2 separate regions of the Homo sapiens genome follow, and region 2 is linked to region 1. Evidence: fine-mapped expression QTL. A gene starts in region 1. The other region holds a variant in brackets. All regions are shown on one strand. Distances are between the middles of the regions.

Evidence for each region. PIP is the estimated chance that this variant, and not a neighbour inherited with it, causes the effect. A credible set is the group of variants that fine-mapping cannot tell apart.
Region 2: its variant is the best candidate, but not a certain one, in a credible set for the expression of SEC16A in whole blood (INTERVAL, PIP 0.87).

Annotation. Positions count from the first base shown.
Region 1 is chr9:136,480,858-136,485,237 of GRCh38, forward strand. SEC16A (SEC16 homolog A, endoplasmic reticulum export factor) reads right to left here and starts at 2,183. Exons shown (of 32, transcript NM_014866.2): 1 at 2,081-2,183. It overlaps C9orf163 (chromosome 9 putative open reading frame 163), which reads left to right and starts at 2,638. Exons shown (of 1, transcript NR_172629.1): 1 at 2,638-4,380. RefSeq lists enhancers at 1,331-2,076, 2,822-3,566 and silencers at 1,806-2,125, 2,356-2,465, 2,536-2,715, 2,866-3,295.
Region 2 is chr9:136,451,161-136,455,540 of GRCh38, forward strand. SEC16A (SEC16 homolog A, endoplasmic reticulum export factor) reads right to left here. Exons shown (of 32, transcript NM_014866.2): 21 at 2,949-3,167; 22 at 2,268-2,350; 23 at 96-248. Among named protein-coding and RNA genes, the nearest start is that of INPP5E, 14 kb to the left of the region's middle. The variant C/G (reference allele first, on the strand shown) is at 2,511.

The DNA of each region.
Region 1 (4,380 bases):
CCCGCCTGGGCAGAGCGAGACTCCGTCTCAAAAAAAAAAAAATTATTCCGCAGCTCTCCTAGACTAAGAGCTTTTTTATGGCAAACATTATCACTTACAAGGAGCATTCCAACCTTCATGCTCCCTAATTGAGAGCTTTTTAGCAACATGCCACTTTCATTTGGAACAATCTTGTGACTTGAACTGATTTTTTTGATCTTTTTCTCTACTCACCAGGAGAAAAACAATGCAACTGCCTATCACCTATGTCACCACTACAGGGAATTTTATTCTTTTTTTTTTTTTTTTTTTTTTTGAGACGGAGTCTTGCTCTTTCACCCAGGCTGGAGTGCAGTGGCGCGATCTCGGCTCACTGCAGGCTCCGCCCCCCGGGGTTCACGCCATTCTCCTGCCTCAGCCTCCAGCGTAGCTGGGACTACAGGCGCCCGCCACCTCGCCCGGCTAATTTTTTTTTGTATTTTCAGTAGAGACGGGGTTTCACCGTGTTAGCCAGGATGGTCTCGATCTCCTGACCTCGTGATCCGCCCGCCTCAGCCTCCCAGAGTGCTGGGATTACAGGCATGAGCCACCGCGCCCGGCCCAGGGAATTTTATTCTGTAACCTCAAGTCATCTAATTCTTTTATTGTTCCAAAGAGGCCAGCTGATCTTGAAAATGCAGTATTCATAAACCTAGCTAGTCAGTTAAACTGCCTTGTAACCATGTGGATACCTAAGCAAAACTCTTTTTAGTACAGTTCTGGCTACAGAACTGAGGCATTTAAAATGCATGCACACCCCTCTCCTCTTGCTGCCACTGGCTTCATATTTTAAGTGAGGAAAACAATAGTGTGCCAGGAAGCCCCTGAGTTTACCTACTGCCTACAGTCTCCCTCACGGTGGCTGCTAGTGACGCCCTGTCAGACTGTGGGATGCTTGACACAAAGACATGATCAACTCCAACTCTTCTAAGTTAGAATCGCAACCACATACAGTTAGATGTTGAAGAGGAAGCCAGCGACAGAGGAGGCCAGCAGCCTAACACTGATGAAAATGACGAAGACCCTGGTATTCATGAAAGATGCTTACAGAAGAAGAAATCACATTAACATTTACCCACTACCATGACCTCTTGCTGGATTTGGCAAAAAAAGACAAAGAAAAAGAAAAAAAAAGTGCCCACTGCCTCAAAGAAAACTTTAAGTACAATTTTGAGACTCACTGTAGTAACCACTATTAACAGTAAACGAGGAACAAGGAACAAGAAAGACACGCTATTTTGCCTCTTGTCTACAAGATACCAGCACCTGAAACTTAAGAAAGGGGATGAGGAAAAAACGCAGGGAGGCTGCATTGTGCTGAAACTTGCAAAAGTATCACTTCTAGGAAGAACCGTCTGCGGTTCCGTTTGCTTCGTATTGCCACATGGGGGATGGGAAATACCTCTTTGGTTAACATCGGCATCACACATGTAAAACAAAATCTTAATATACAATCCACACCCAACTTACAAGCCATTTAAAAGTGTTCTTAAGCGGCAAAAACTGACTTTAAATGGCTCTGATGTTTCTGAAGGCTCTACTGTAACACTTCCATCACAAAGGGGCGAGCCGGATCACACACACTCCTCTAACCCTCGGCCTCTGTTGCAACATCCTGATCGCCCAATCAAGAAATTACAAACAAACAACTCTGCTCTTTGGTTCAAATGTAAATGTGTCTCTTCACCAGCATCGCTAAGGAAGCCTTCTAGCCGGTGAGGACAAGACACGCTCATTTGAAAAGTTAAGAGTCTTACGAGGGGTGCCTGGGGGTCCAGCCTCCCGCCCCGGGAACCGGCGTCACCGCAGCCCAGCCGGGTCCACGTCAGTCCCTCGAGTCCCACGGCGGCCCGCGCCGCGTCCGGCCTTCCGCTCTGGCCCGGGGGCCCGGACGTCTGTCCCCTCGACCGGCCCCGGCGGGACCCGAGATGCACCGCCCGCTCGGGGCTGGGCCCAGCCGCCTCCTCTCCTCCGCGCCCCGACCTCCACGGCCTGGCTCCGCCGGCCGGCCTCCGCCTTCCTCCTCCCGCGCTCGCCCCCTCACCCGCGCTCGCCCCCTCACCCGCGCGGCTGAGACCGATCCCTCAGGAGCCGCGGGCGAAAGCCCACCCGACGCTGGCGACGAGCACAGACACCTCAGCCGCCGCAGCCATCTTGGCACATCCGGCTCGGGTCTCCGCGGCCGCCGCGCCGCCGACGTGTCCGGCTTACGACATCAGCGCGCGCCCCGCCCCTGGCCCCGCCCCTCGGCTCGTCGGCCCAGACGCGTTCTCTTTCAGCCCTTCACAGCCCATCCCTCGGCCCCGCCCCTCGCCGGCGTCCGTCCTCCCCGCCTCATCCCTCTGTCCCGCCCCCTCTGCCCCCGCCCCTCGCCGGCGTCCGTTCTTCCCCGCCTCATTCTTTCGTCCCGCCCCCCGCCCGTCTTCCACGCCTTATCCTGTAGTTCCCGCTCCCCTTGGCCCCGCCCCTCTTCCGTCGTTCCTCGCCTCATTCTTTCGTCCCGCCCCCTTAGCCCCGCCCGTCGTCCGTCTTTCTCCGCCTCATCCTGTCGTTCCCGCCCCTTTGGCCCCGCCCCTCGGCCGTCCTTCCCCGCCCGTGGCCCCGCCCCCCTCCGGCGTCCGTCTGCCGCCTCACCGCTTGGCCCCGCCCCTCGCCACCTGCCCGGCCAGGCGCGCCGGGGCCGTCCCAGTACGTCGCCCTGTTTACGCTGGCTCTTTCTCCCAGTCTTTTTTCGTTTTAAGATGTGAGAAGAGATGGGATTCTTCAATCAAGGCCACAAGCGGGAAATCAGTCTGCAGGACCGATGCCAGCAGGCTCACGCACCGAGAACGGCTACTCCGCCCAGCTGAGAAGCGCGGGGCCCTGACGCGGGCGCGCTCCTCGCATTCTTCCGTTGGGCTGGGAGGCTGGAGGGCAGGCGGCGGCGGCCGCGCATGCGCCGGGAGCGGCCGGAGCTGCGGGACGCGGAGGGCCGACTGCGCCTGCGCGCTGGTTGCCTGGTTACGGCGTGGCCGCGGGCACCGAGCGGCGCCGGAAGTTGGTCGATGGCTGCCGCCAGTCCCTGGCCAGCGTCCTGGGGTTTCCCCGACGCATCCTCTACTGTCCCTTCGCTCTGCACAGAGGCCCGGGCAGGGAGGGGCGGCCCGGCCACCGCGCGGAGCCGGGTGTCCGCCGACTCGCAAGGGGGACGCGCGGGCTCCTCGTCCCCAAGCTCCGCCCTGCGCCTTTGCTGCGCCGGGCCCTCCCAGGCCCACCCTGGCCCCAGCCCTGCTGTCCTCCCGGGGAGGTGCGGCCTACTCGGTTCGTTCCCCCGGCCGCCAGCCCCACAGGGGCGCTGGGGTCCCAGCCTTGGCTGAGTGCACGTCGGTGGCGAGTGGGCCCGGGCGCTCGGGCGGCCAGAGCGACCCAGCGGAGGGGTGAGGCGGGTAGGCGCTCCTGTGCCTGCCACGGCCAGGCCAGGCAGCATCCACGCCCTCCCGCGGAAGATCGCAGGGAACAGGTGGGCACTATCCTCTGTGCCCTCATTTTTCGGAGGAGCCGAGGGAGGCTGAGCGGTTGAGGAAGCGGCCAGCCATGCCGGGCCCACTCACCTGCACACCTGCCTGGCAAGGGCAGGGAAGAGCCGCGGCCTTCCTCTGCTGCTCCTTCCAGAGGGCAGGCGCCGTGGTGGGGGTGCCCGCCCGATGGCATCGCGGGAGGCTGAGCTCCCAGCAGCGGCTGAGGTCCTCCCTGGGTGGGAGCCACCCTTGTCCCCAGCTGGGCCGGCGGCTGGTGAGGGAGGGGGTGATATCCGTGCCACGCCAGCAGGGCCGCAGGCGGTGCAGGGAGAGCTTCAGTCCGGCTGACGTGGCACCAGGGCCAATCTGCTCAGCTAACATTTGCCTTTCAGGAGTCAGATTCCTGACCTGTTTGAACAGAGTTAGGGAGCACGTGGTAGGGCCCAGCCCCAGCCCCGCTGCCCCCATCTGCTTCTTCCCAGTGGTCGAGGCGCTCTGCACCCTCCGCGGAAGGAGGTGTCATTGTTTGCCCTTTCCAAAGAGGGGGATGCAGAGGTGGATGCTGCCTCTCAGGCGTGGGGCTCGCCTTTTGCCGCTCGCGAGTTCAAAGAACCCAAGAGCCAGGAGCCCAGGGCTCGACCCTCTAGGGTCCTCCGAAACCCTGTGGTCCCACCGGGGTGGGCACTAAGCTATGGGAGAGACCATAGCTGCAGAAACCAACCCTGCCCTAGGCATAAAATGCAAGGTCTCTGGACCTCAGGGCAGGGATGTTAGACAGCGGCTTCTGTTGGCTCCTAGGGGTGTGAATCACCACATCACCTGCAGGGGGCGCGGCTGTCTTTCTTCCCCCTCTTCTCCCTAATCC
Region 2 (4,380 bases), 30 kb before region 1:
CATGTGTGGTGAATTAAGAGGATGGCGCTCTGGGAAGCGTGCCTCCTGCCCAAACCCTCCCGGCCGCCAGGCGCACCGTGGGCAGGCTGTACTACCTTCTTAGGTTCCTTCGTTTCTTTCTTGGCTGCCTGTCCGGGTCTCTTTGTTTCGGGAGCGGGTGAGAGAGACAGAGGTGGCTGCGTGGGACCCGAGTCGGCACGATCCCACCCTGGGGGGGCCTCCGAGTCTGGCACCGTCCTCGAGGGGGTCTGTCGCAAGGAAATGCAGAACAGGCTCTCCTGGGGCTCCTCACAGGAACCGAAAGAGAGAGGGGGATGCAATTCCCCAGGCGTGTTTCCTAAATACATCACTGAGAGGCCGGATGACTCTGGTGACCAGAGGGAGGCAGGAAGGGGGCTGGGGAGAGCAGCCCCCTGACTGGGCCTCCCAGAGCCTCTACCTGGCCTGACTAGAGAAGAGCCAGCCGCACTTAATAAGCAGCTCCGTCTGGGAGCACTCAGCACTCAGAATGCAAATGAGGGCGTTCGATGGAGATTCCGGGCTGGAAGAAACGGAGTGTGAGCATGCACTGAGGGAAGACTGGCCAGAGGGGGGCGATGGGTGTTCTCAAAGATACAATGATTTTTAAAAATATTTATTCCTGGGTCAAGTCCCAATTTTTAATAGCTCAACCCTCATTTTTACTTTTCCAGGGACACAGTATTTTAAAGGGTAAAACACCTAATGCAAGTTCAAACTATAGCAATCGCCTACTGATGGGATGCCCGTGAAGGGCTGGGTATCTGTAAAGAAGGTTCCAGAATGCGGTCTGTATAAAAGCAACCATCCCTCCTGGTTAGGAGTAGAGCAAACAGAGGAGGTATTTATACCAAACATGTCTAATGAGATAAATCTCACTTTCAGGAAAACCAGTGACAATGTTAGAAATTCTACTGAATTCCAGGACATCCTCTTGTGAGATCAAAAAATTAGAAAAGAAATTCTACTGTAGAAAAAGAGACGGCCGGGCTGGGCGGGGTGGCTCATGCCTGTAATCCCAGCACTTTGGGAGGCTGAGGCAGGTGGATCATGAGGTCAGGAGTTCAAGATCAGCCTGGCCAAGATGGTGAAACCCCATCTCTACTAAAAATACAAAAAAAAATGAGCTGGGTGTGGTGGTGGGCGCCTGTAGTCCCAGCTACTCAGGAGGCTGAGGCAGAGAATTGCTTAAACCTGGGAGGCAGAGGATGCAGTGAGCCAAGATCGCACCACTGCACTCCAGGCTGGGCGACAGAGAGAAACTCCATCTCAAAAAAAAAAAAAAAAAAAAAAAAAAAAAGAGATGGCCAGGTGCAGTGGTTCACACCTTAATCCCAGCACTTTGGGAGGCTGAGGCAGGCAGATCACTTGAGGTCAGGAGTTCGAGACTAGCCTGGCCAACATGGCGAAACCCTGTCTCTACCAAAAAATACAAAAAATTAGCCAGGCATGGTGGCACATGCCTGTAGTCCCAGCTACTTGGGAGGCTGAGGCTGGAGAATCACTTGAACCTGGGAGGCGGAGGTTGCAGTGGCCAAGATGGCGCCACTGCATTCCAGCCTAGGCGACAGAGCGAAACTATGTCTTAGGGAAAAAAAAAAAAAAAAAAAAAGGCCAGGCTTGGTGGATCACACCTGTAATCCCAGCACTTTGGGAGGCTGAGGCGGGTAGATCATGAGGTCAGGAGTTTAAGACCAGCCTGGCCAACATGGTGAAACCCCATCTCTACTAAAAATACAAAAACTAGCCGGGCATGGTGGCACACACCTGTAGTCCCAGCTACTTGTGAGGCTGAGGCACAGAACTGCTTGAACCCAGGAGGTGGAGGTTGCAGTGAGCCGAGATCGCACCACTGCACTCAAGCCTGGGCGACAGAGCAAGAATCTGTCTCAAAAAAAAAAAAAAGAAAAAAAAAAGAAAAAGAGATGTAGAAATCAGAGAAGGTACCCATTTTGGAAGAATTAAAATTAATAAGGGGATTTCATGATATTTGGGTATTTCTTCTACTTAAAGTAACTGTTTTTACACTACTGAATTCTCTCTTCCCCATCTTTCCCTGCCAGTGTTTTCACCAACTCTTCATATTTTAAGGATGAAAGCTATTTAGAAGCACTTTCACTTTAAGAAACAATTTTAGAAACAATTTCATAGTCCTCACTACCATCATCTTACAACTCAACAAGGAGTCTGGGTGCCCACTCGATGAACTTTATGGAAAACAAACAGTTTAAGAAAATGTGACAAAGTACCAGATTAGCAAATTTTCCATCAAAATTTTCTTCGCTTAGCTCGGAAAGTGAGTTTCCAACAGGCGCCTCCTGCGGCACTATCCCTGTCAACGGGAAAGAGAGCAACTATGATCTCAGTCACGAGAAGGCGGGACGTGTGTGTGGCGCACAGATCAACAGGCACACCACCTTCCCACCCAGCTACCGCCACACCAGCATGATCTGCAGAAACCAAGGCTGAACATCTTCCCACATGTGTGCACA[C/G]TCTTTCATTTTTAAAACTAGGCCTATGTTTTGCTTTGTCCATATACACACATGTAGACATAGGCACAGACCAGGGACAAGATCCACCAAATCGAGTTCCAGACAGTTCATGACCTGCCCCTGTGCATCTCACCAGGCGTCCAGCAGGGCCGTCTAAAGACAGACCCCAGGAGACCCATGGCCACCATGCCCTGCCCCAAATGGCCATTTAAGCTTCACAACAAAAAGCCAAGTTACAAAAGGAACTGGCATTAACACTGCTGTTGTAGTGAGACTCTGAACCCATCCAGTCTGTAACTTCCAGAATTTCTGGTCTACGTTAAGACAAGTAATGTAAGTTGTTTCAAGCTCAAATAACTTCAATCTCTTCCACCAATCCCCACAAACACCACACCCCATGCTGCTTCTGCTCTCGAGACAGCATCTCTGCAGCCCCACCTGGGTCTGGGCTCCTGGCTTCCTGGAGCAAGTGTCTCCTTTCCTGCAGAGGTGGCACACCAGGTGGGAGGCCAGGCCCGGAGGGCTCCAGGAAGCCAAGTGCAGGCCCTGGGGTCACACAGCCAGGACCCGGCTCCAGGGGCCCCGGGGGCAGTGGCACTGGGAACATCGGCACTCTGGCAGGACTGGCCAATGGGCCGTCAGGGAGCGTCTGCGGAGCTGCATGGGAACGGTGGAGAAGAGGTCTGGGGTTACTGAGGGTAGCTTGAGTTACTGGAAGGAGCTGACACTCGACGTGTTTATGACAAGTTATTTTGTACAGCCCCATTTCTTTTATAAGGGAGGTCCAACAGAGCAGAAAGCCTGAAGCCACCACCCCACCGCACCATCCGTGGTTTGCAGAAAAGCAGAGTATCCGCTTCCTTTTCTAGGGGAGGGGCACTTGAGCAGTCACAGCGGCACGCGGGCTCCAGGGCCCGGCCCACACGCAAGCCCATGGCGGCCGCCTGGCACAGAGCTCTGCTAGGCCCGAGTCCCCTCCTCCACGGCCAGGGGTCACACAGGCCACTCGTTCATTCCTTCATTCTTCCGACTCAACATAAAACCTGAGAGGGCTGCTGCCTACCAGCACCATGCTGGGCCCTGGATGCTTCAACAACAAAAGAAATGCTGGGTCCTCATGGGGGTCGGGACAGATGAACTGAGTAAGAGAAAGCGCTAAGGACAGCAATCAACCAGGAAGTGGTAACGGTGTCTGAGGACGAAGCAGACTGGACATCAGGCAGGGAGGGTGGGCAGTGGGCCCAAATCAGGAGTGTGGCTGGTCCACAGCGTGGGAGTGGACATGGCACGAGGGCAGGAGGGCTCAGGGCCAAGCTTGGAGGGCCTGTGGCCACCGTGAGGACCCTGGCTTGTCCTCAGGTGAGATGGAGAGTCTGGAGGGTCTGGGGAAGAAGCAGGAGGCGAGCAGGAAGGAGCCCGTGCTCATCCAGGCATGCGGACCTGCGTGCAGGCCGCGCTGGTGAGGTTCACTGACGAAGGAAGCCGAGAAGCGCGAGAGAGGAGGGGGCATCTGGACTTGACTCCCTGGAGCTCTGGGCTGGCCCTTCCACCGACGGGGCCGACTGGGAGAAGCAGGTTACAGAGGGGCACAGCCGAGGGCGCCGCCCAGACACGGTGCGGCTGAGGCTCCCGGAGAAACAAGCAGGGAGGCTGAGCAGGCAGCGGGCGCTCAGGGCAGTGTCGCCAGCACATGGATATTTATGGACATGGAAAGCCATGAGCCTCCCCTCCATGGGCTCCTCAGGGGAGGAAGCATGAAGGGAAGAGGGAGGAGACCGAGGAGCCCCACAACCACCGAGGTGGTGTGAGACACTGCCTCCAACAGTCCACATCTGAAAGCAGTTCTCCAGGAGGCAAGGGTGCAGGCCAT